6 linked regions of the Homo sapiens genome follow. The protein of the gene in region 3 purifies or fractionates together with the protein of the main gene of each other region. This does not show direct contact. Each region holds a gene or a part of one and is shown on either strand. Other genes may lie near its edges. The genes, in order: PPIL4, ALDH18A1, ARHGEF40, P4HA1, DSG1 and P4HA2.

Region 1 (4,049 bases), on a different chromosome or scaffold from region 3:
CATGGCTTCATTCAGCCACTTTAACTTTTCCCCTTCATACATACAGGGCTCATTTTTCCTTGCTTTTCAGTTTTCACTTACACTACTTTCATTAGCCTTCTTGCAGCCCATTCAGACCCAAGCTCACTTACCCTTTGAGGCTCATCTGAAATCCTAACTTCTCCATGAAACCTTCTCTAATTATTCTAACCTTAAGAGTACTTGTTTGACACATCTCCTAAATGTCAAAGACTATTTGAACCCAGATCTACCTGACTTCAAAGCTTGTGTAGCTTTGAAAACTACTCCCGAGTAGGAGTGATTTTAAAGTTTCAGTCCAATTCAAATATTCAGCTTCCTCAAATTTTTAAAAGAATGAAGTGCTACATAATCTTTTATCTCTTCTATTTTAAATACTCAAAGCACTTAAGTGCCCATTTGTATAATAACATACTGAGGATTTTATAAATTTATACATCAGCCAGCAGTCTCGGCATTTTAAAAGTTTGTCTCAACCAATACAGAAATAAGTACAAGATGTACAGATATAATAGTATATGAATATTTCTATTTTGTATATGTTATAGGAAGCACAAAAATTCTTTTATCTCAGAATGTCATATTTTACTAGAAAATTGATGGCAAAAGGCTAAACCAAAATGCCTACTCATTTTTTCTACCTCAGGGACTCTTATAATATGACAAGAACTATTGGGATTGTGTGGAAAATCACAAATCAGTTTATAATACTGTATTACACAGTGTGATTATTACTATAACAATCCTGTTACATCTGTTTTCACACACTGTCAAACTCAAGGTGTACAGTATCTAGACAGTATATGGAATAACTAATAATTTGCTTAAAACCCAGTCCTTAACCATGGGTATTCATCACTCTGAATTTTAAGCCTTGACATTTATGTCTGCTACAGTGGTATCTGGTGATAGAGTTGAGACCCTTGGGAGTTTAGTCCTTAGAATTTTCCTTTCCTTTGGGCAGTCTTAAGAAAGTTAAATTTTACAAAGTATCTCTTGAAAGAGCATTGGCTGTGGTCTAAGAGTAGAATTAAATGTAGCAATTTTATTATCTTTGGGGCAAAGGATTCTACCAGTGTTTAAAAACTCATTTTAAAGAAATATAATAATTTTGACATAAGCCTAATCAGCTGAGTGAGGTGGCTCATGCCTGTAATCCCAGTACTTTGGGAGGCCGAGGTGGGAGGGGATCACTTGAACCCAGGAGTTTGAGACCACCCTGGGCAACATGGGGAAACCCCGTCTCTACAAAAAAATACAAAAATTAGCCAGGTGTGATGGCACATGCCTGTGGTCTCAGCTACTTAGGAGACTGAGGTGGGAAGGATCGGTTGAGCCTGGGAGGTTGAAGCTACAGTGAGCCATGATCGTGCCACTGCATTCCTGCCTGGGAGACAGCAAGACCTTGTCTCAAAAAAAATTCTCCTCTCTAACTTCTGTCTTTCTAAACATGGAAGATGTATTTGAACATCTAGAGAGGAGCTGTTATAAAATAAAACACTTTAAAAATTAATTGCTCAGACCCAAGTATACATTATCCATTTTCTTTTTTCGAGATGGAGTTTCGCTCTTGTTGCCCAGGCTGGAGTGCAGTGGGGCAATCTTGGCTCACCGCAACCTCTGCCTCCCAGGTTCAAGCAATTCTCCTGCCTCAGCCTCCCGAGTAGCTGGGATTACAGGCATGCGTCCCCACACCTGGCTAATTTTGTATTTTTAGTAGAGTTTCTCCATGTTGGTCAGGCTGGTCTTGAACTCCTGACCTCAGGTGATCCATCCACCTCAACCTCCCAAAGTGCTGGGATTACAGACGTGAGCCACCGCATCCAGCCTCCATTTTCTTATTTAAGACTTACTGACTTGTCTAAGATCTCTTCCTGCTAAGTTATTTCAATGATATCTTCTTATAGGATTCTTATGGGAATTTTAGTAGTTTCATTGCAGATCAATAATGGGACCACGTTTTGGGGGAGTGAAGGGTGGGGAGCTGGGAATAAGACTATACATAATCAGAATTTTTGATTTTGCAGATTGCTCTAGAGACATGTTCTGATTTCAGTTGAGCTATTTCAGTTCCATATTTTTGAAGCTGATCCTTCGTTTCAGCCAAAATAGTAGATACAAATCAATGACGTTGTTAAACCTTTTTCTGAATTATTTTATTGCTTTGTAATTTACAAGATTCTTGACATTAGTGGTAGTGTTCACATTTAAGCTGTTATAACAGCCTTCTAATGGTAGACTTTTCTAAGTTTTATTAATTGAAAATGCCCACAAAATGATTATTTTACTGATTCACTTGTAATTCCCCCTTCCTTTGACAGGATATCTATAGAGAAATGGGGTTTGGTCACTATGAAGAAGAAGAAAGCTGTTGGGAGAAACAAAAGAGTGAAAAGAGAGACCGAACTCAGAACCGAAGTCGTAGCCGATCTCGAGAGAGGGATGGCCATTATAGTAATAGTCATAAATCAAAATACCAAACAGATCTTTATGAAAGAGAAAGGAGTAAAAAGAGAGACCGAAGCAGAAGTCCAAAGAAGTCCAAAGATAAAGAAAAATCTAAGTATAGATGAAAGATGAAGAGGCAGAATTGAGAGGCTAACATATTTACTCTTGTCTAACTTAAGAGTGCCAGGAAAGCAGATGCTTAGATTTTGTGTCAAAGCTTGTTATTTTTTTCATACTAGGATTATGGTCTTTAGATTAATACTGATTATATAGAGCACGGAAAGATAAAGAATTGAACATTTTCTTTGTATACTTTTTTACACTAATTTTATTGTTATACATAAATGGTAGTCTTCATTTTTGAAGTCTTACATTTTCACTCTTTTTTTAATGAAGTATTTCATACTACAAAAATACATAAACGTATATATAAAGGGATAATAAATGTAAATATCTGTGTACTCATCAGCCAGCTTAAGATACAGATGTTGTCGACATTTTAGAAGTTCCCTAAGGCCCTCTCCCTCTCAAATAATTATTTGGAATTTTGTGTTTGTCATTTGTCTATTATAGTTTTACAACATACGTATGTATCTGTAAGTGAAATGTTAATTTTGTATGTTTCTGAATTTTATATAAATGGCAAAATGTTTACTTCTGTGACTTTCTTTCATTTTTATTGCTATATAGTATTATATAAATATACTACAACTTATTCATTCTTGATGGACATTTGAGTTTTGTTTATTTGTTTTTGCTGTTGAAACAATGCTGCTGTGAACATTGTATCTAGCAGTTATATTGCTTGATATATTGATAAAATAATGCCAAATTTGTGTTCTGAAGTGACTGTACTAGTTTATACCTCTCTTGGCACTGTGAGTTACCTTTGTTTCATAGCATCTCCAACACTTAAGTTCAGACTTAAAAATTTGCCAACCTAGTGGATGTTAAGTGGTATCTACCTGTGATTTCCAGCAAGATTACTGTTATCTCTGCTCTTCCATGTGTAAGATGTCATTTTTTTCCTGGCTGCTTTTAAGGTTTTCTGTCACTGGTTGTAAGAAGTTTGATTATGATGTGCTTGCTGTAGTTTTTTTTTCACGTTTCTGCTGCTGCAGCTATTTTACCTGTGGGTTTATGGTTTTCATAGAATTTGGAAATTGGGGGGCATTTTTTCTTCTGTTATGGTTTTCTCTCTGCTCCTCTCATGCTTCTCCTGGGGCTCTGATGACTTGGATGTACGTTAGGCCCCTCAGAATTTTCTCCCAGTGTGCTGATTCTGTGCAGCTTTTTAAAAAGCCTTTTTCTCTCTGTGTTTCATGTTGGGTACTTTCCAGTGCTGTGTCCTCATTGTTTATTAATCTTTCTGTCTAAAGTATCTAATTTCCTTTTAATCGTATCCAGGTATTTTTCACCTCCGACATATTTTTAGTCTTTAGAATTTCTGTCTGGGTCTTTATCTCCCATGTGTCTCCTTCACATGCTCATGCCTTCCTCTATTTTTTTTTTTTTCAACATCTGGAGTGTATTGATAATAGCTCTTTCAGTGTGCTTGCCCATTCTGTCATCTGCATCATTTC
Region 2 (3,500 bases), on a different chromosome or scaffold from region 3:
ACAAAAGCTGATAAATTTGACGTCATCAAAAGAAAAACTTTTCCTATATGAAAGACCCTCTTAAGAGAATAAAATGACAAGCTATGAGACTGGGAGAAAACATTTGCAAACCACCTATCCAACAAAGGACTAATACCTGGAAGTGCTATGGTTTGGATATGGTTTGGCCCTTCCAAGTCTCAGGTTGAAATCTGATCCCCAGTGTTGGAGGTGGGGCCTGGTAGGAAGTGTTTGAATTACGGGGGCAGATCCCTGATGAACAGCCTGGTGCCAGTCTCAGAGGGAATGCATGAGTCCTCACTCTTAGTTCCCATGAGACATGGTTGTTAAAAAGAGCCTGGCCCTTTCTTTTCTCTCTCTTGCTTCCTCTCTGGCCATCTGATTTTGCACACAACAGCTCCCCTTCATCCTCTTCCAAGAGCAGAAGCAGCCTGAGGCATTCACCCAATGCAGTTTTTGGTGCCATGCTTTTTGTGCAGCCTGCAGAACCATGACAAATAAACCTCTTTTCTTTATACATTACCCAGCCTCAGATATTCCTTTATAGCAATAAAAATGGACTAAGACAGGAAGATATAGAGAATTCTCAAAATTCAATAGTTTAAAAAAAAAACAACTTTCCAATTCAAACTGAGCTGAAGGCCAGGTGTGGAGGCTCATGCCTATAATCCCAGGACTTTGGGAGGCTGAGGTGGGGGGATCACTTGAGGTCAGGAGTTTGACACCAGCCTGGCCAACATGGTAAAACCCTGTTTCTACTAAAAATACAAAAACTGGCTGGGCATGGTGGTGGGCACCTGTAATCCCAGCTACTCAGGAACTGAGGCAGGAGAATCGCTTGAACCCGGGAGGCAGAGGTTGCAGTGAGCTGAGATTGCGCCACTACACTCCAGCCTGGGTGACAGGGCAAGACTCCATCTCAAAAAACAAAAAAAAACAAAAAGAATGAGCTAAAGACATGAACTAACATTTCACTGAAGAGGATATAAACACATGAAAAGATGTTCAATATCATTAGCTATTAGGGAAAGGCACATTAAAGCCACAATGTGATTATCACTACATACCTATCAAAATGGCTAAAATAAAAAAGAGTGACCACATCAAATGACGGTAAAGATGCAGAGAAAGTGCATCACTCATACAGTGCTAGTAGGAATGTAAAATGGTACTGTCACTCTGCAAAGACAGTTTGACAGTTTCTTATAAAACTGTGTTAGGCCATTCTTGCATTGCTGTAAAGAAATACCTGAGGCTAGGTAATTTATAAAGAAAAGAGGTTTAACTGGCTCATAGTTCTGTGGGCTGTACAGGAAGCATGGTGCTGGCATCTGCTCAGCTTCTGGTGAGGCCTCAGGAAGCTTATAATCATGGCAGAAGGCAAAGGGGAAGCAGGCATCTCCAATGGCGAGAGAGGGAACAAGAAGAGAGAGTGAGGGGGTGGTGCCACACACTTAACCAGATCTTGTGAGAAGTCACTCACTATCTCAAGGACAGCACCAAGGCATGAGGGATTCACCCCCATGACTCAAACACCTCCCACAGGCCCCACCTCCAACACTGGGGATTACAATTCAATATGAGATTTGGTAGGGACATACATTCAAACTATGTAAAAAACTAAACATGTAGCTACAATCTGACCCAGCAACTACACTCTTAGGCATTTATCCCACAGAAATGAAAACTATGTTCACACAAAATCCTGTACATCAATGTTCATACCAGCCTTATTCATAACAGCCAAAAAATGAGAACAACCCAGATGTCCTTTAATGGGTGAATGGTTACACTAACTGTGATACACTCATAGCATTACATACTTCTCAGTAATAAAAAGGAACTAACTGATACACACAGCAACTTGAATGAATCTCCAGAGAATTATGCTGAAGAAAACAGAATTCCAAAAGGTTACATACTGGATAATTCCATTTATATAACATTTTTATAAGGACAAAATTATAAAAATGTAGACCAGATTAATGTTGGCCAGGGGTTAGTAATAGGGAAGAGGACAGTGGCTGTTAAAGAGAAATAAAAAATCCTGTGGTGATTGAAATGTTCTGTATCTTGATCGTATCAACGTCAATACCTTGGTTCAGATACTGGGTGAAATTGGGTAAAGGGTATAAGGGACCTTTTTGTACTATTTCTTAAAATTGCAAGTGAATTTATAATTAGCTCAAAATCTAAAACTTAATTACAAAAAAAGAGTAATGAACAAAAATAGCATGGGGCCGGGCACAGTGGCTAACGCCTGTAATCCCAACACTTTGGGAGGGAGGCCGAGGCGGGCAGATCACCTGAGGTCAGGAGTTCGAGACCAGCCTGGCCAACATGGCGAAACCCTATTTCTACTAAAAATACAAAATTAGCTGGGTATGGTGATGCACACCTGTAATCCCAGCTAACTGGGAGGCTGAGGCAGGAGAATCGCTTGAACCTGGGAAGCAGAGGTTGCAGTGAGCTGAGATTACACCACTGCACTCCAACCTGGGAGACAGAGTGAGACTCAAGAAAAAAAAAAAGCATGTAAAAATTTATTTGGGGGTCAACTTTATTGACACAAACACTGAGAACATTTCACCAGGAGACTACCTCTTTGCCTCCTTGCTATTTGGCAGAATTTTGTCCAATTCTGCCAAATTACATCTTTTTTTTCTCTCTCTCTCTTTTAAACCTTTTTTCTTGGCTGGGCACGATGGCTCACGCCTGTAATCCCAGCACTTTGGGAGGCCAAGGCAGGCAGATTGCTTGATCTCAAGAGTTCAAGACCAGCCTGGGCAACATGGCAAAATCGCATCTCGACAAAAAATAAAAAAGTTAGAGTCAGCGCGGTGGTGTGTGCCTGTAGTCCCAAGTACTTGGTGGGCTGAGGCAGGAGGATTGCTTGAGTCCAAGAGGTCTGGACTGCATGGAGCTATGTTTGTGCCACTGCACTCCAGCCTGTGTGACAAAATGAGACCCTGTCTCCAAACAAACAAACAAACATCTTTTTTCTCTTTGAAAACCTTGTTGAAACATACTTTGACTATCAAACGTCCCACATACTCATAAGTTTTCTATGGTACATACGAGATCTGAAGACGGTTGTACACTTGACCCAGGGCAGAAGATGTTGGTTGAAGGGCTGGAACCCACAGCGGTAAACTTGACTCAACATGCTGCGATGTGGTCACTAACCAAAGTATCTGCAGAATACATTTTTTAAAAAGTGAGTAATGAAAAATACTGGACAATTCATTTTATTTCCCTCTACTTCCCCTTACCCTCGGAGTAAAAATCTGACTCTCCTGCTCCAAACTCCTCTGTATTAGGGAAACTCCCACCTCCTCTATATTATAGAAAAGAGAGAAAAAGTAAGTGGCTCCTTTCTAGGCCTCAACCATCTTAGTTTTTATGTAAGCAAATAATAATGCAGAGTTAGGAATATTTTGAGACACAAAAAACACCTGCTCTTTTTGGTATCTTCCAAATTTAAAAAAAATCTTTCAGGT
Region 3 (3,500 bases):
CCAAGGCTTGGTGAAGGCCGTCAGTCATCCCTATGACCCTCATCCTGCTTTTGGTTCACCCCAGTTTGATGTACTTCACCCTCGGACATAGCCCTGGAACTTTGACCCACTCCCTCAGTGCTTCCCATCAGCCCAGCTTCCCTCTCATCTGCCTTACCAAAGATTTCTTACTCGGTTTCTCATCTGACCCTTGTGGAAACTATTACCATTCACTGTTGTCATTCCCACATTGCAGATGAGATGCAATAGTTCACTCAAAGTTCTATAGATTGGGGTGGTGGGGCTGATGCTGGATCTCAGCCCTTCCTTGCCTTTCCACTCCATGACCCCCTGCCCTCCCACCCCATCTGCCTCAGGTGTTGCAGTGGCTCTCGGGCCCAGGGGAGGAGCAGCTGGCAAGCTTTGCTATGCCTGGGGACACCTTGTCTGCCCTGCAGGAGACAGAGCTGCGATTCCGTGCTTTCAGCGCTGAGGTCCAGGTGAGAAGGGGCTGGAGGGCAGGTGAGAGGAGGCAGGGGGAGACTACCTAGGAGTGAGGACCAGGTCTGAGCGCAGCCTCCCTTCTCCAGGAGCGCCTGGCCCAGGCACGGGAGGCCCTGGCTCTGGAGGAGAATGCCACCTCCCAGAAGGTGCTGGATATCTTTGAACAGCGGCTGGAGCAGGTTGAGAGTGGCCTCCATCGGGCCCTGCGGCTACAGCGCTTCTTCCAGCAGGTGCATGCAGAGCCTTTTCCTTCTGTGCCCCCCCATTTCCATTTATTCACTTCCTTTCTGCCTGGAGAGGCTAATCAAGTTGTTAAAAGTGGAGGCTGAGGGGCCCATCTCCTAGGTTTTTGCTCTTAGCTCTGCCACCTCCTTGCTGAATGGCATGGGGCAAGATACTAAACCTGACTGTGCCTCCATAGATCTACCTCACAGGGCTGCTGTGGGGATTACACGAGGCAATACATAAAAGCCCTTAGCACAGAGCCTGCCACTCATAAATGTCGTATGAGTACCGGTTATTCTTTTATATAGGCTCTTCCATCTCCATACCAACTCCGAGTGACATGGTTAGGCAGTGATGGTGGAACAGTGAGAAAACAGGAGAGTGACGGGCATTGGGAGGCCACAGGCAAGAGGACAAGGGCTGTCACTGGGCATCCTTCGTGAGCAACACAGGCCCTTACCCTTTCTCTCCCATCCCCAACCCCTTTGACTTCGTAGGCACATGAATGGGTGGATGAGGGCTTTGCTCGGCTGGCAGGAGCTGGGCCGGGTCGGGAGGCTGTGCTGGCTGCACTGGCCCTGCGGCGGGCCCCAGAGCCCAGTGCCGGCACCTTCCAGGAGATGCGGGCCCTGGCCCTGGACCTGGGCAGCCCAGCAGCCCTGCGAGAATGGGGCCGCTGCCAGGCCCGCTGCCAAGAGCTAGAGAGGAGGATCCAGCAACACGTGGGAGAGGAGGCGAGCCCACGGGGCTACCGACGACGGCGGGCAGACGGTGCCAGCAGTGGAGGGGCCCAGTGGGGGCCCCGCAGCCCCTCGCCCAGCCTCAGCTCCTTGCTGCTCCCCAGCAGCCCTGGGCCACGGCCAGCCCCATCCCATTGCTCCCTGGCCCCATGTGGAGAGGACTATGAGGAAGAGGGCCCTGAGCTGGCTCCAGAAGCAGAGGGCAGGCCCCCAAGAGCTGTGCTGATCCGAGGCCTGGAGGTCACCAGCACTGAGGTGGTAGACAGGACGTGCTCACCACGGGAACACGTGCTGCTGGGCCGGGCTAGGGGGCCAGACGGACCCTGGGGAGTAGGCACCCCCCGGATGGAGCGCAAGCGAAGCATCAGGTGAGATCCCAGCCCAACTGGTGCTAAGAGGCGGAGCCAACTGCCCAGTAGGAAAAGAAGATGACATTGTTGGGGGTACTGGCTCCCTCCCACACCTCCTCTGCCACTCCTATTGTGCCTGCAGTGCCCAGCAGCGGCTGGTGTCTGAGCTGATTGCCTGTGAACAAGATTACGTGGCCACCTTGAGTGAGCCAGTGCCACCCCCTGGGCCTGAGCTGACGCCTGAACTTCGGGGCACCTGGGCTGCTGCCCTGAGTGCCCGGGAAAGGCTTCGCAGCTTCCACCGGACACACTTTCTGCGGGAGCTTCAGGGCTGCGCCACCCACCCCCTACGCATTGGGGCCTGCTTCCTTCGCCACGTGAGTGATCCCCTCAACTTCTTCCAAGTGCTCTCCCTTCTCTGTTCCAGCCTCATCCATCTGTCCCTCTTTCTCAGTACCCACGGCCCTCTCCTCCCATGTGTGGTCCATGACCTTGGGGCCCAGCCCTGTTCTGTGGGCACTTCTGCCTCTACTCAGCCTCTGCGCCCTGCTCTCAAGAGCTGCCTGGACTATGCTCTCTCCACAGGGAGCCCTTCCCTCCCTGGTAGGCTGAGTGCTCCCTGGTGACCCATCCCTCATTTGGGCTACAGAGAGGATAGAGAGGGGGAAGAGAGAGGCTTGTCTGCAGCGGCCTCACCGGGGACTCCTTATCTGTTCTTTACTGGCACAGGGGGACCAGTTCAGCCTTTATGCACAGTACGTGAAGCACCGACACAAACTGGAGAATGGTCTGGCTGCGCTCAGTCCCTTAAGCAAGGTAACTTTTTCTCCAACCTTCAGGAGAAAAGTAGAGAGGCCAGAAAGACCTAAAAACCCACCCAACAAATCCCTCAGGGCAAAAAACTGGATATGCCCAGGAACATCACCTACCAATCATCTCCTAGAATTGCCGAGGGTGGGACAAGCACCGGACTGGTGAGGCCAGGTTCTTATCCAGTCCACCTGAGGGACTGGGCAGGACTCCTGTTTCCTCTGGGCCTCTATTTCCACAGCTGGTAAATGGGGGCAATAGTCACTATAGCCAGCTCACAGGGAGGATCTAAGCATCAGAAGAGCTCACATCAAAAGACGTACAAGTGACTAAAAGTTCAAAGGCAGTGGCCGGGCGCGGTGACTCACACCTGTAATCCCAGCACTTTGGGAGGCCGAGGCGGGTGGATCACGAGGTCAGGAGATTGAGACTATCTGGCCAATATAGTGAAACCCCATCTCTACTAGAAATACAAAAAAAAAAAAAAAATTAGCCAGGCGTGGTGGCGGGCACCTGTAGTCCCAGCTACTCGGGAGGCTGAGGCAGAAGAATGGCGTGAACCTGGGAGGCGGAGCTTGCAGTGAGCCGAGATTGTGCCACTGCACTCCAGCCTGGGCGACAGAGCAAGACTCCATCTCAGGGGAAAAGAAGAAAAGAAAAGAAAAGTTCAAAGCCAGAAAGTAAAGGGGATTACTATTTTGATTCTTCTTCCATTTCCCTTCAAGATATAGACAGTGATTGCTGGCCTGCAGGCCCCCACCTGCTTTCTTTCCAGGGAGAATGGTTTTGCCTTACTTTAGGGAGCATCTGGGCTTCATCTATACCCAAAAGCCTAGGGTATCACCCACCTACCCCCCAACCCCTGAGCTTGGCCCCCAGAGGCTCCACCCCT
Region 4 (3,500 bases), on a different chromosome or scaffold from region 3:
GCTTGAACCCAGGAGGCAGAGGCTGCAGTGAGCCGAGATCAAGGCATTGCAGTGCAGCCTGGGTAACAGAGCAAGACTTTGTCTAAACAAAAACAAAAACAAAAAATTCTTTTTCTCAGAATAGCTACATTCATCTCATCATTATATAAAAGACTTACTAAAAATTAAAGCCTTGGATTTGACTCTAGGTAAAGTGCATGGAGAATAAACATGAATCATTATTTGTTTTAGTATACTATTAGTATAATAATTGAAACAGACTACTCATATTCCTGCTTATGTGACATACTTGTTTTTGTTTTGTTTTGTTTTTTTGAGACAGCTTCTTGCTCTGTCACCCAGGCTGGAGTGTAGTGGCATGATCATGGCTCACTGCAACCTCTACCTCCTGGGCTTAAGCAGTCCTCCCATTTCAGCCCCTCAAGTATGTGGGACTACAGGCAAGTGCCCTCATGTCCGGCTAATTTTTTAAATTTTTTGTAGAGACGAGATTTCGCTGTGTGACCTAGGCTGATCTTGGTCTCCTTGGGCTCAAGTGATCCTCCTACCTCAGCATCCCAAAGTGCTGGGGTTATAGGCATGAGCCACCATGCCAGGCCTGACATACTTGTTTAATTAAGAGAAGTAGGCAACAAAATAACTTATTAATATAATACATAGATGATTGAAGGGAATTTGTTTTGTTGACTGCTCTATTTTTATACTGCCTAATAAAAGCATCTGGGATCTTTGTTTAATAACTTATTTTTTCTTTTTCAGAGCTATCCATTTTTTATTTTGCCCTTAAAAAAATTCCTTTTTTTTTTTTTTTTTTTTTGCCACAAGCATTTAACTGTGAGGTATTTAGGAAAACCTAGTTTTTTTTTTCTTCTAGAAACTTTTTGTCTCTGGGTGCTTTCCAGTTACTTTGTGCCATTTAGAGCAATGCCAGGCATTCATTTAATATTTTCATAAACATGGCTTTTTTTTCATATTTAAACATTTGAACTTTATTTTGATGAGTGAAGGGTTAAAAGAGATACACTACCTTTCTCCTTATTTAAGACCTCGCCTCTCTCACCCAGAAAATAATCATTAATACTGTATTTAAAATTCTGAACATCCTGTTTGAGGCAAAATATTTGCAGAGTACTGCTTCTTTTGTATGTTTTTCCAGAGATACTCTGTATATGCAAGCATGATTATTGTCTCTTATCTGCATAGGAATAGATATTAAAAGTATTATTACTGTAATATATTCATCATATTCTTAACTTTATGTTTAGACCCCTCGGAGACAGAAAAAACTCTTTTGCCGCTACCATGATGGAAACCGTAATCCTAAATTTATTCTGGCTCCAGCTAAACAGGAGGATGAATGGGACAAGCCTCGTATTATTCGCTTCCATGATATTATTTCTGATGCAGAAATTGAAATCGTCAAAGACCTAGCAAAACCAAGGGTAAATAATGTTTTCTTTCTTTCTCCTCAATTTACTGTACCTTTGTATCAATTTTTCTTTGTAAAAAAATAGGATAATTGATATACGAATAATGCCACAGATTTTTTAAAGATATTTTGCCTCAGCATAATGGAGTTACTAATGATGCTGTGTTTATGCCAGTTTTTCCATTTGTTATCAACACAAGTAATGTACCCTTAACTGGGTTTTAAGCACTGAATTATGAAAATTATTGTGAGATTTTTATTCACCATTAACAAATTTGTGTTTCACTGTCTTCCTGATAAACTTTTCTCTGTATTTTGGAGTCTTTTAATCTCAGAGGCTACTCAAAGCCCAGCTTTTTCACTTCTGTATTTTTACTGAAAGAATACCGTGGAAGTATTTTTATTCCCTTTTAGGCACATTGTTACTATTATAAAAAGATATAATTGGGCACAAGTATTATGTTAATTTGAAATGGTGATAGTTTTCTGACTTTAACCCACAGAATTTATCTTAAAAAGAAAAAGAATCTAACGTAAACCCAATCTATAAGCTTAGTGTTGAGCATAAAAACTCTTTAGTGAGAATGTGGAAAAGACTACCCTTTATGCTCTTGCCTTTTCCCCCATCAGCTTGTTCTTAAAACATATTTGGTCTTCTTGATAGTAAAATACAAGCTGCCATCACTTTCATAAAGAGATTGTTGAATAAATTCTAGGCATGCTTTGCTGTCTTACACAGGAGTTGGCAGATTTTTTCCATAAAGGTCAATATTAGATATTTTTTAGGCTTTGGAGGCCATATGATCTCTGTCATGACTATTTAGTTCTGCCATTATAGTGCAAAAGCAGCCAAAGAAAATATGTAAATGAAAGAGTGTGGCTATATTACAGTAAAATTTTATTTCCAGTGGCAGGTAGCAGGCTGAATTTGGTCTGTGGCCATAGTTTGTTGACCCTTATTATATCAAAGGTTTGAATTATCTGGATATCTATACTACAAAATGAAGTTAGAATTTCTTTTAGAGTTTTTCTGCTTCTCCAAATTGGTGGTTTTTTTTTTTTTTGGCCAAAGATTACATTATAAATGCAAAAGACTGGTCTAACATTAATATATATTATTGGTGCCATCCAAGGTAATTAATTCATTTCAACTTGGAGATCAAGTTATATTCTGGAGATTCCTCAATTTGGATTGTTTTTGATCAATAAATTTAATGGCAATAAAATTTCATGCTCTCACAACCTCAGAATCATCGTTCCATTAAAAAAAATTGAAATTATTATCTAGGCGGTCACCTCTTTCTTGCTGTTTTTAACATTTATGAGCTCTTTTCCTCTGCCTTTGTTCTCAGTCCAAGATTATTTCACTGTATATGTTAATGAGAGTGGCTATCTTGAAGGGACAAAAGATTGACCTTAAAATGAATTTTAAACATTAACCTGTGCAAACAGTTCCATCACTAAAAAAAATTAAAGTCAAAGGTTTTGGAATGGATCATTAATTGCAAATAGGCATTCTTCTTTTTTTCCCCTTCTCTCCCCACCCCCAGATGGCTATTTTAACTGTAAATTAGACTTCAAATTTTAGATATGTCTCTTTTTCTTACTGTCATGTCCTTTCACCATTGAAAGAAATTTAATTTCCAATCTCTTTTGTTTGTATGTCCTCCATCTATGCAAAACAAAAAATTGAAGAAAAAAAAAAAACCCCAAAAACCTAAAAAACTAACTGGCTTTCAAGGCTCAGCACAAGGTGACTGGAAGTGTATGGAGTTATTTTCTCTTTTTAGCCTCCTTTGTAAAAACCCTGGAATTCTGACTGGTTGGGTAAATGTGATTCAGTTTTTTGTTTTGTAATGCAACTATTTTGATGGTTGGCTTCACAGCTGAGGCGAGCCACCATTTCAAACCCAATAACAGGAGACTTGGAGACGGTACATTACAGAATTAGCAAAAGGTAAGAGATGTGTATGCTGCATATTTTGCCCTCTAATGAGTGTTTTATACATCTTACAGGAATTATTCATTTAAGGAAAGTGGGTCATTTTCAGTCACCAGCTCAAGTCACCAC
Region 5 (3,500 bases), on a different chromosome or scaffold from region 3:
TGCTCATTTCTTTTTATTCTTTTTTCTCTAAACTTCCCTTCTCGCTTCATTTCATTCATTTCATCTTCCATTGCTGATACCCTTTCTTCCGGTTGATCACATCAGCTCCTGAGGCTTCTGCATTCTTCACGTAGTTCTCGAGCCTTGGTTTTCAGCTCCATCAGCTCCTTTAAGCACTTCTCTGTATTGGTTATTCTTGTTATACATTCTTCTAAATTTTTTTCAAAGTTTTCAACTTCTTTGCCTTTGGTTTGAATGTCCTCCCATAGCTCAGAGTAATTTGATCGTCTGAAGCCTTCTTCTCTCAGCTTGTCAAAGTCATTCTCCATCCAGCTTTGTTCCGTTGCTGGTGAGGAACTGCGTTCCTTTGGAGGAGGAGAGGTGCTCTGCTTTTTAGAGTTTCCAGTTTTTCTGTTCTGTTTTTTCCCCATCTTTGTGGTTTTATCTACTTTTGGTCTTTGATGATGGTGATGTACAGATGGGTTTTTGGTGTGGATGTCCTTTCTGTTTGTTAGTTTTCCTTCTAACAGAGAGGACCCTCAGCTGCAGGTCTGTTGGAGTACCCTGCCGTGTGAGGTGTCAGTGTGCCCCTGCTGGGGGGTGCCTCCCAGTTAGGCTGCTCGGGGGTCAGGGGTCAGGGACCCACTTGAGGAGGCAGTCTGCCCGTTCTCAGTTCTCCAGCTGCGTGCTGGGAGAACCACTGCTCTCTTCAAAGCTGTCAGACAGGGACATTTAAGTCTGCAGAGGTTACTGCTGTCTTTTTGTTTGTCTGTGCCCTGCCCCCAGAGGTGGAGCCTACAGAGGCAGGCAGGCCTCCTTGAGCTGTGGTGGGCTCCACCCAGTTCGAGCTTCCTGTCTGCTTTGTTTACCTAATCAAGCCTGGGCAATGGCGGGCGCCCCTCCCCCAGCCTCACTGCCGCTTTGCAGTTTGATCTCAGACTGCTGTGCTAGCAATCAGCGAGACTCCGTGGGCGTAGGACCCTCCGAGCCAGGTGCAGGATATAATCTCGTGGTGCGCCGTTTTTTAAGCCCGTCGGAAAAGCGCAGTATTCGGGTGGGAGTGACCCGATTTTCCAGGTGCCGTCCGTCACCCCTTTCTTTGACTCAGAAAGGGAACTCCCTGACCCCTTGCGCTTCCCAAGTGAGGCAATGCCTCGCCCTGCTTCGGCTCGCGCACAGTGGACGCACCCACTGACCTGCACCCACTGTCTGGCACTCCCTAGTGAGATGAACCCGGTACCTCAGATGGAAATGCAGAAATCACCCGTCTTCTGCGTCGCTCACGCTGGGAGCTGTAGACCAGAGCTGTTCCTATTCGGCCATCTTGGCTCCTCCTCGAAACCAATTCATGTGATTTTTTTGTGTATGGTTTTATGTCCAAAGTACACAATTATAAATAAGTCCATCTAAGTAAATTTTTAAAATCATAGTATTAGAATTATACTTAAAATGATTTCTAACCAAATTATTTCAAATAATTATAAAATGATTTTTAGAGCATCTCTAGTATGTTAAAATCTTGTTTTATTTCATTCCTCTTTGGAAATGCTCTGGAAGAAAAACTAATGATAAAGGCTGTTCTATTATTGTTAAATATGCATTCATAATTTCATTTTCTCTTTCTCCTATAAATTCAGAAAGCATATGCTTACGCAGATGAAGATGAAGGACGCCCATCTAATGACTGTTTGCTCATATATGACATCGAAGGTGTAGGTTCCCCTGCTGGCTCTGTGGGTTGTTGTAGCTTCATTGGAGAAGACCTGGATGACAGCTTCTTGGATACCCTGGGACCTAAATTTAAGAAGTTGGCAGACATCAGCCTAGGAAAAGAATCATATCCAGACCTTGATCCTTCTTGGCCACCACAAAGCACTGAACCAGTTTGCCTTCCTCAGGAAACAGAGCCCGTTGTTAGTGGACACCCACCAATCTCCCCACATTTCGGCACTACCACAGTAATTTCTGAGAGCACCTATCCCTCGGGACCTGGTGTACTGCATCCTAAGCCTATTCTCGATCCTCTGGGCTATGGTAATGTCACTGTGACCGAGTCTTACACCACCTCTGACACTCTGAAGCCCTCTGTGCACGTTCACGATAACCGACCAGCATCAAACGTGGTAGTGACAGAGAGAGTGGTCGGCCCAATCTCTGGCGCTGATTTGCATGGAATGTTAGAGATGCCTGACTTGCGAGATGGGTCGAATGTTATAGTGACAGAAAGGGTAATAGCACCAAGCTCTAGTCTACCCACCTCTCTGACTATCCATCATCCTAGAGAGTCTTCAAATGTGGTAGTGACAGAAAGAGTAATCCAACCAACTTCCGGCATGATAGGTAGTCTGAGTATGCACCCCGAGTTAGCCAATGCCCACAATGTCATTGTGACAGAGAGGGTTGTTTCTGGTGCTGGCGTAACTGGAATTAGTGGCACCACTGGGATCAGCGGTGGCATAGGCAGCAGTGGCCTGGTTGGCACCAGCATGGGTGCTGGGAGCGGTGCCCTGAGTGGAGCTGGCATAAGTGGTGGTGGCATTGGCCTGAGCAGCTTGGGAGGGACAGCCAGCATTGGCCACATGAGGAGTTCCTCTGACCATCACTTTAACCAAACCATTGGGTCCGCCTCCCCTAGCACAGCTCGAAGTCGAATCACAAAGTATAGTACCGTGCAATATAGCAAGTAGTCAGGACCCCAGCTCACTTTTTCATAGTCATTGTGGTTTAGATCCAATTCCCACCACTAAAAAACCAACAATGTGATTTATAACGCACAACTTCGTGCTCAGGTCATCTAGGAGCAAGGTGAGAAATCACAATGAGAAAAATAAATGGAAACACCACTGCTAGGGGAGAGCTCTCCTTAGCATTCATAAACTTTTCTCTTATATTAGGACTAAGGAACTAAAACTTGAGGCAGAGTCTTCTTTGTGCCTGAGTGGCCTGTAGTCCATCTCCAGCATGTAACTGGCCTTACGATGGCAATTGGCATCATTCTCCTTGCTCTGTTTTGCTTTTCCATATAGCTCGAGCAAAATTCAAAAAGAACTAAATATGCAATATATGTTCATATCTATGGGAAAAATCTAAAATGTGTGCCAGATGCCCTGTTGGTTTCACAGATAACATAAATAAAAATTCAACCACAGATTTATACAAGGGTTAACCATTTTTTTTAAGTTTGACTACATAGTCAAGTCCACAAGCCATCAAGCACTCCTACCTTAATTATTGCACTAGAGAAAATAAATTCCAAATTAGGAAGTGTTTCCTAGGAGGAAAATTCCATTAGAGAGTGGCAATAGGATGAGGTTTCTTCAGGGTAAACTAGCAATGCCTGAGCCTGAACCTTAATGTGGGGCCTCAGTTAAATCTCCTGTGGAGTCAAGGATTCTTCTGATTCTAGTGTGTGTTTAGTGATAGATGTAGTCTTGACGAATATTGCTTACTGGTGAGGTTGAGGAATATCACACTCGTCTTTCCCTTTACCACTGTGGTTT
Region 6 (3,500 bases), on a different chromosome or scaffold from region 3:
TGGGCATGAAAGGGCATGATTAGATGCCCTTGGGTGCTATTCCCATGGCAACCTGCACACATGTATCTTGTCCCACTGGCAGAATTTCATACAATTATCTGTTTACATGTGTCTTCCTTACCAATTCTTCAGCAAATTGAGGCCTGAGATCATGTCTTGTCTTATTTGTGTCTGATTCCAGGGCACAGTGCAGGGGGTCATCATGAAGGAGTCATTCATTCAGGCTACTAAACTGACCAATAGGATTGTAACATGCTTGCTTTCTTTTCACAGTCTCCAATAAGTGGTTCCATGAACGAGGACAGGAGTTCTTGAGACCTTGTGGATCAACAGAAGTTGACTGACATCCTTTTCTGTCCTTCCCCTTCCTGGTCCTTCAGCCCATGTCAACGTGACAGACACCTTTGTATGTTCCTTTGTATGTTCCTATCAGGCTGATTTTTGGAGAAATGAATGTTTGTCTGGAGCAGAGGGAGACCATACTAGGGCGACTCCTGTGTGACTGAAGTCCCAGCCCTTCCATTCAGCCTGTGCCATCCCTGGCCCCAAGGCTAGGATCAAAGTGGCTGCAGCAGAGTTAGCTGTCTAGCGCCTAGCAAGGTGCCTTTGTACCTCAGGTGTTTTAGGTGTGAGATGTTTCAGTGAACCAAAGTTCTGATACCTTGTTTACATGTTTGTTTTTATGGCATTTCTATCTATTGTGGCTTTACCAAAAAATAAAATGTCCCTACCAGAAGCCTTAAAGAGCCTTACTTGGAGTATTTTTAAGACTGGAAGCTTTTACCAGGTTCATCATTTCCTATGCATCACCTTCATGCAGGCAGAGTCTGGATAATGAATGCTTTAGCAGCAAAAAAGCATCTTGGGTCTTGGATTTCAGACCTGGTTTCAACACTTGTGTTCCCTCTAAGTGTCAGTGTCCTTTTCTGGAAAGTAGGGTAAATAGTTTCTCTTTGTCTCCCAGAGAACATAGCACATGTGTTCATGATTGTAATGCTGTTATAATGTGTACTTCATTTTTAAATTTTGAGATAAGAATTGTTCATGATACACAGATGTATACTTAAAAAAATATGAAGGTGAGCAGGAGCACCTGTGTCAACACCAAGTTAGAAAAGAGAACGTTTTCAAGTCAGTACCTCAGGAGCCCCTTGGGAACCCCTCCTAGATCACATCTCCTTCACTGCCCCCAGCACTTTGGAGATAAATCATTGTCTCATGATGTGTGGTACTCATTCCTTTGCTTGTCTTTATAGTTTTACCATCTATGATTAGATCCCTAAATAAGTAGTTATTCTGTTTTCCCTGATTTTGAACTTTTACTAATAGAATGAGAGTAAATATTTTTGGGTATGTGGCTTCTTTTGTTCAACATTGTTTTAAGATTCATCCGTGTTGCTTGTGTAGCTGTAATTTGTTTTAATCTTTATAGTACATTCAGTTTTGTTAATGCTTATTGTAGGACTGTACCATAATACAGGCAGCATGCTGCTGATAAACACTGGAATTGATTTCAGTCTTTGTATATTGTGAATAATGCTGTGATAAACATTTTTATACATGATTCCTGGTGCACATATAAACACATATTTCTGTAGGATATATATCTAGGAGTGGAAATGTGGAGTCTTAATGGTGTTCCAACTTTACTAAATAATGTATTCCAAGGTGGTTATACACATTCTCACCAGGAGTAAATGAGAGTTATTACCCCAATCTTTTCCAGTATTTAGTATTTTCATACTTTTGAATTTTAGCTAGCTTGGTACATGTTACGGACTAAATGTTTGTGTCCCCCCACCAGATTCATATGTTGAAATCTTTTTTTTTTTTTTTTTTTTTGAGACGGAGTCTCGCTCTGTCGCCCAGGCTGGAGTGCAGTGGCGGGATCTCGGCTCACTGCAAGCTCCGCCTCCCGGGTTCACGCCATTCTCCTGCCTCAGCCTCCCAAGTAGCTGGGACTACAGGCGCCCGCCACTACGCCCGGCTAATTTTTTGTATTTTTAGTAGAGACGGGGTTTCACCGTTTTAGCCGGGATGGTCTCGATCTCCTGACCTCGTGATCCGCCCGCCTCGGCCTCCCAAAGTGCTGGGATTACAGGCGTGAGCCACCGCGCCCGGCCCATATGTTGAAATCTTAACCCCCAATGTGATGATATTAGGATGCGGAGCCCTTGGGAGGTCGTAAGCATGGAGCCCACGTGAGTGGGATTAGTGCCCTTATGAAGAGATCCCAGCCCTCTTTCTGCCATGCGAACACACAGCAAGAAGATGCCTGTCTATGAACCAGGGGGCCCTTACCAGAAACAAACCTACTAGCATCTTGATCTCGGACTTTCCAGTTCCCATAACCATGAGAAATAAATGTTTTTAATTCAATGTATGGTATTTTATTATAGCAGCTCTACCTAAGACAGTACATGTATAGTGTCTATTTGAACATTACTGATAATGTTGAACAACTTTTCATGTTTATTAGTTATTAGGTTTCTTCAAGTGTTCTTATTCATACAAATTTTAAAATATGTACACAAGTTCTTTGTTATATATTTTGCAAATATCTTCTGTGGCTTGTCTTTTCACTATTTTAGTTCTGTCTTTTGATAAACAGGAGCTTTTAATTTTTATGTCAAATCTATCAAGCTTTTTCTTTTTGATTTATGTTTTTTATGTCTTATTTGAGAAATCCTTCTATACCCCAAGATCATGAGGATGTTTCCTGTGTTCTCTTCTGAAAGCTATATAGTCTTTGTCATTTAGGTTTATCTTTATACGTGGTATGAAGTGTAAAGTTCTACTTTTAATTTTTTGCATATTTTATTAGGATAGGATGGGCTTTTTCTGTAGTAATAATCCTTAAATCTCAGGGGCTTAATATATAAAATTGTCTCATGCAAAAAACCACTGGGTCTAGGGCAATTGCTATCTACTGCCGTCTAATCTCCCTCTAGTGGCTTCCATTGGTAGACCCTAACAGGAAGCCAGCTGATAAGGGAATCTGGGAAATGTAGTTTACAGAGTGGCAGCTACAGTAGAACAGTAGAGACTACAAGGATGAGCTTGCAGCTGAGAATAGAAACGTGACTGGCACACTAGGTGGTTTGTTTGTAGGTTTTTTCTTTTCCTGTTTGAGACTTTTTTGGATTCTTGAATTTGTACAATGGTATCCTTAATCAATTGTGGAAAATTAAATGATTTTTTCTTTCAGCATTGTCTGTTTCTTCTGTAACTGATTAAATGTAAGTTGGATCATATCATGATATTATCTCTTAATCTGTCTTTCATATTTTTATATATATGCTATATTTGGGGAGAACTTTATAGCTGTTTTGTACAAAGTTCACTAATTCTGTCTTCTATCAAGTGCATACAGGAGTCTGTTTAAGGACTTTAAAGATGTAATTCTTTGTTTTCTGGCTTATACCATTTCTGTTGAAAAGTCGCTATCTGGTCCTTTGTTGTTCCTTTGAAGGTGATTTTGCCTTCACCTGGCTGCTTTA

The links.
Region 1: the proteins of ARHGEF40 (region 3) and PPIL4 purify together in Homo sapiens (affinity purification with mass spectrometry; one large-scale study listed by BioGRID and IntAct). This does not show direct contact.
Region 2: the proteins of ARHGEF40 (region 3) and ALDH18A1 purify together in Homo sapiens (affinity purification with mass spectrometry; one large-scale study listed by BioGRID and IntAct). This does not show direct contact.
Region 4: the proteins of ARHGEF40 (region 3) and P4HA1 purify together in Homo sapiens (affinity purification with mass spectrometry; one large-scale study listed by BioGRID and IntAct). This does not show direct contact.
Region 5: the proteins of ARHGEF40 (region 3) and DSG1 purify together in Homo sapiens (affinity purification with mass spectrometry; one large-scale study listed by BioGRID and IntAct). This does not show direct contact.
Region 6: the proteins of ARHGEF40 (region 3) and P4HA2 purify together in Homo sapiens (co-immunoprecipitation; one large-scale study listed by IntAct). This does not show direct contact.

The regions. Positions count from the first base shown.
Region 1 is NC_000006.12:149,503,995-149,508,043, reverse strand, and holds the end of PPIL4 (peptidyl-prolyl cis-trans isomerase-like 4), read left to right. Parts: intron 1-2,339; coding exon 2,340-2,591; 3' UTR 2,592-3,549; downstream 3,550-4,049. UniProt on the Homo sapiens protein: PPIases accelerate the folding of proteins. It catalyzes the cis-trans isomerization of proline imidic peptide bonds in oligopeptides.
Region 2 is NC_000010.11:95,650,212-95,653,711, forward strand, and holds part of ALDH18A1 (delta-1-pyrroline-5-carboxylate synthase), read right to left. Parts: intron 3,195-3,500; 5' UTR 3,167-3,194; coding exon 3,079-3,166; intron 1-3,078. UniProt on the Homo sapiens protein: Bifunctional enzyme that converts glutamate to glutamate 5-semialdehyde, an intermediate in the biosynthesis of proline, ornithine and arginine.
Region 3 is NC_000014.9:21,080,304-21,083,803, forward strand, and holds part of ARHGEF40 (rho guanine nucleotide exchange factor 40), read left to right. Parts: intron 1-356; coding exon 357-479; intron 480-569; coding exon 570-713; intron 714-1,016; coding exon of another isoform or gene 1,017-1,151; exon of another isoform or gene 1,152-1,194; intron 1,195-1,205; coding exon 1,206-1,816; intron 1,817-1,940; coding exon 1,941-2,175; intron 2,176-2,527; coding exon 2,528-2,614; intron 2,615-3,500. UniProt on the Homo sapiens protein: May act as a guanine nucleotide exchange factor (GEF).
Region 4 is NC_000010.11:73,044,867-73,048,366, reverse strand, and holds part of P4HA1 (prolyl 4-hydroxylase subunit alpha-1 isoform 2 precursor), read left to right. Parts: intron 1-1,265; coding exon 1,266-1,442; intron 1,443-3,315; coding exon 3,316-3,386; intron 3,387-3,500. UniProt on the Homo sapiens protein: Catalyzes the post-translational formation of 4-hydroxyproline in -Xaa-Pro-Gly- sequences in collagens and other proteins.
Region 5 is NC_000018.10:31,352,660-31,356,159, forward strand, and holds part of DSG1 (desmoglein-1 preproprotein), read left to right. Parts: intron 1-1,240; exon of another isoform or gene 1,241-1,277; intron 1,278-1,637; coding exon 1,638-2,687; 3' UTR 2,688-3,500. UniProt on the Homo sapiens protein: Component of intercellular desmosome junctions. Involved in the interaction of plaque proteins and intermediate filaments mediating cell-cell adhesion.
Region 6 is NC_000005.10:132,189,854-132,193,353, reverse strand, and holds the end of P4HA2 (prolyl 4-hydroxylase subunit alpha-2 isoform 2 precursor), read left to right. Parts: intron 1-273; coding exon 274-344; 3' UTR 345-3,207; downstream 3,208-3,500. UniProt on the Homo sapiens protein: Catalyzes the post-translational formation of 4-hydroxyproline in -Xaa-Pro-Gly- sequences in collagens and other proteins.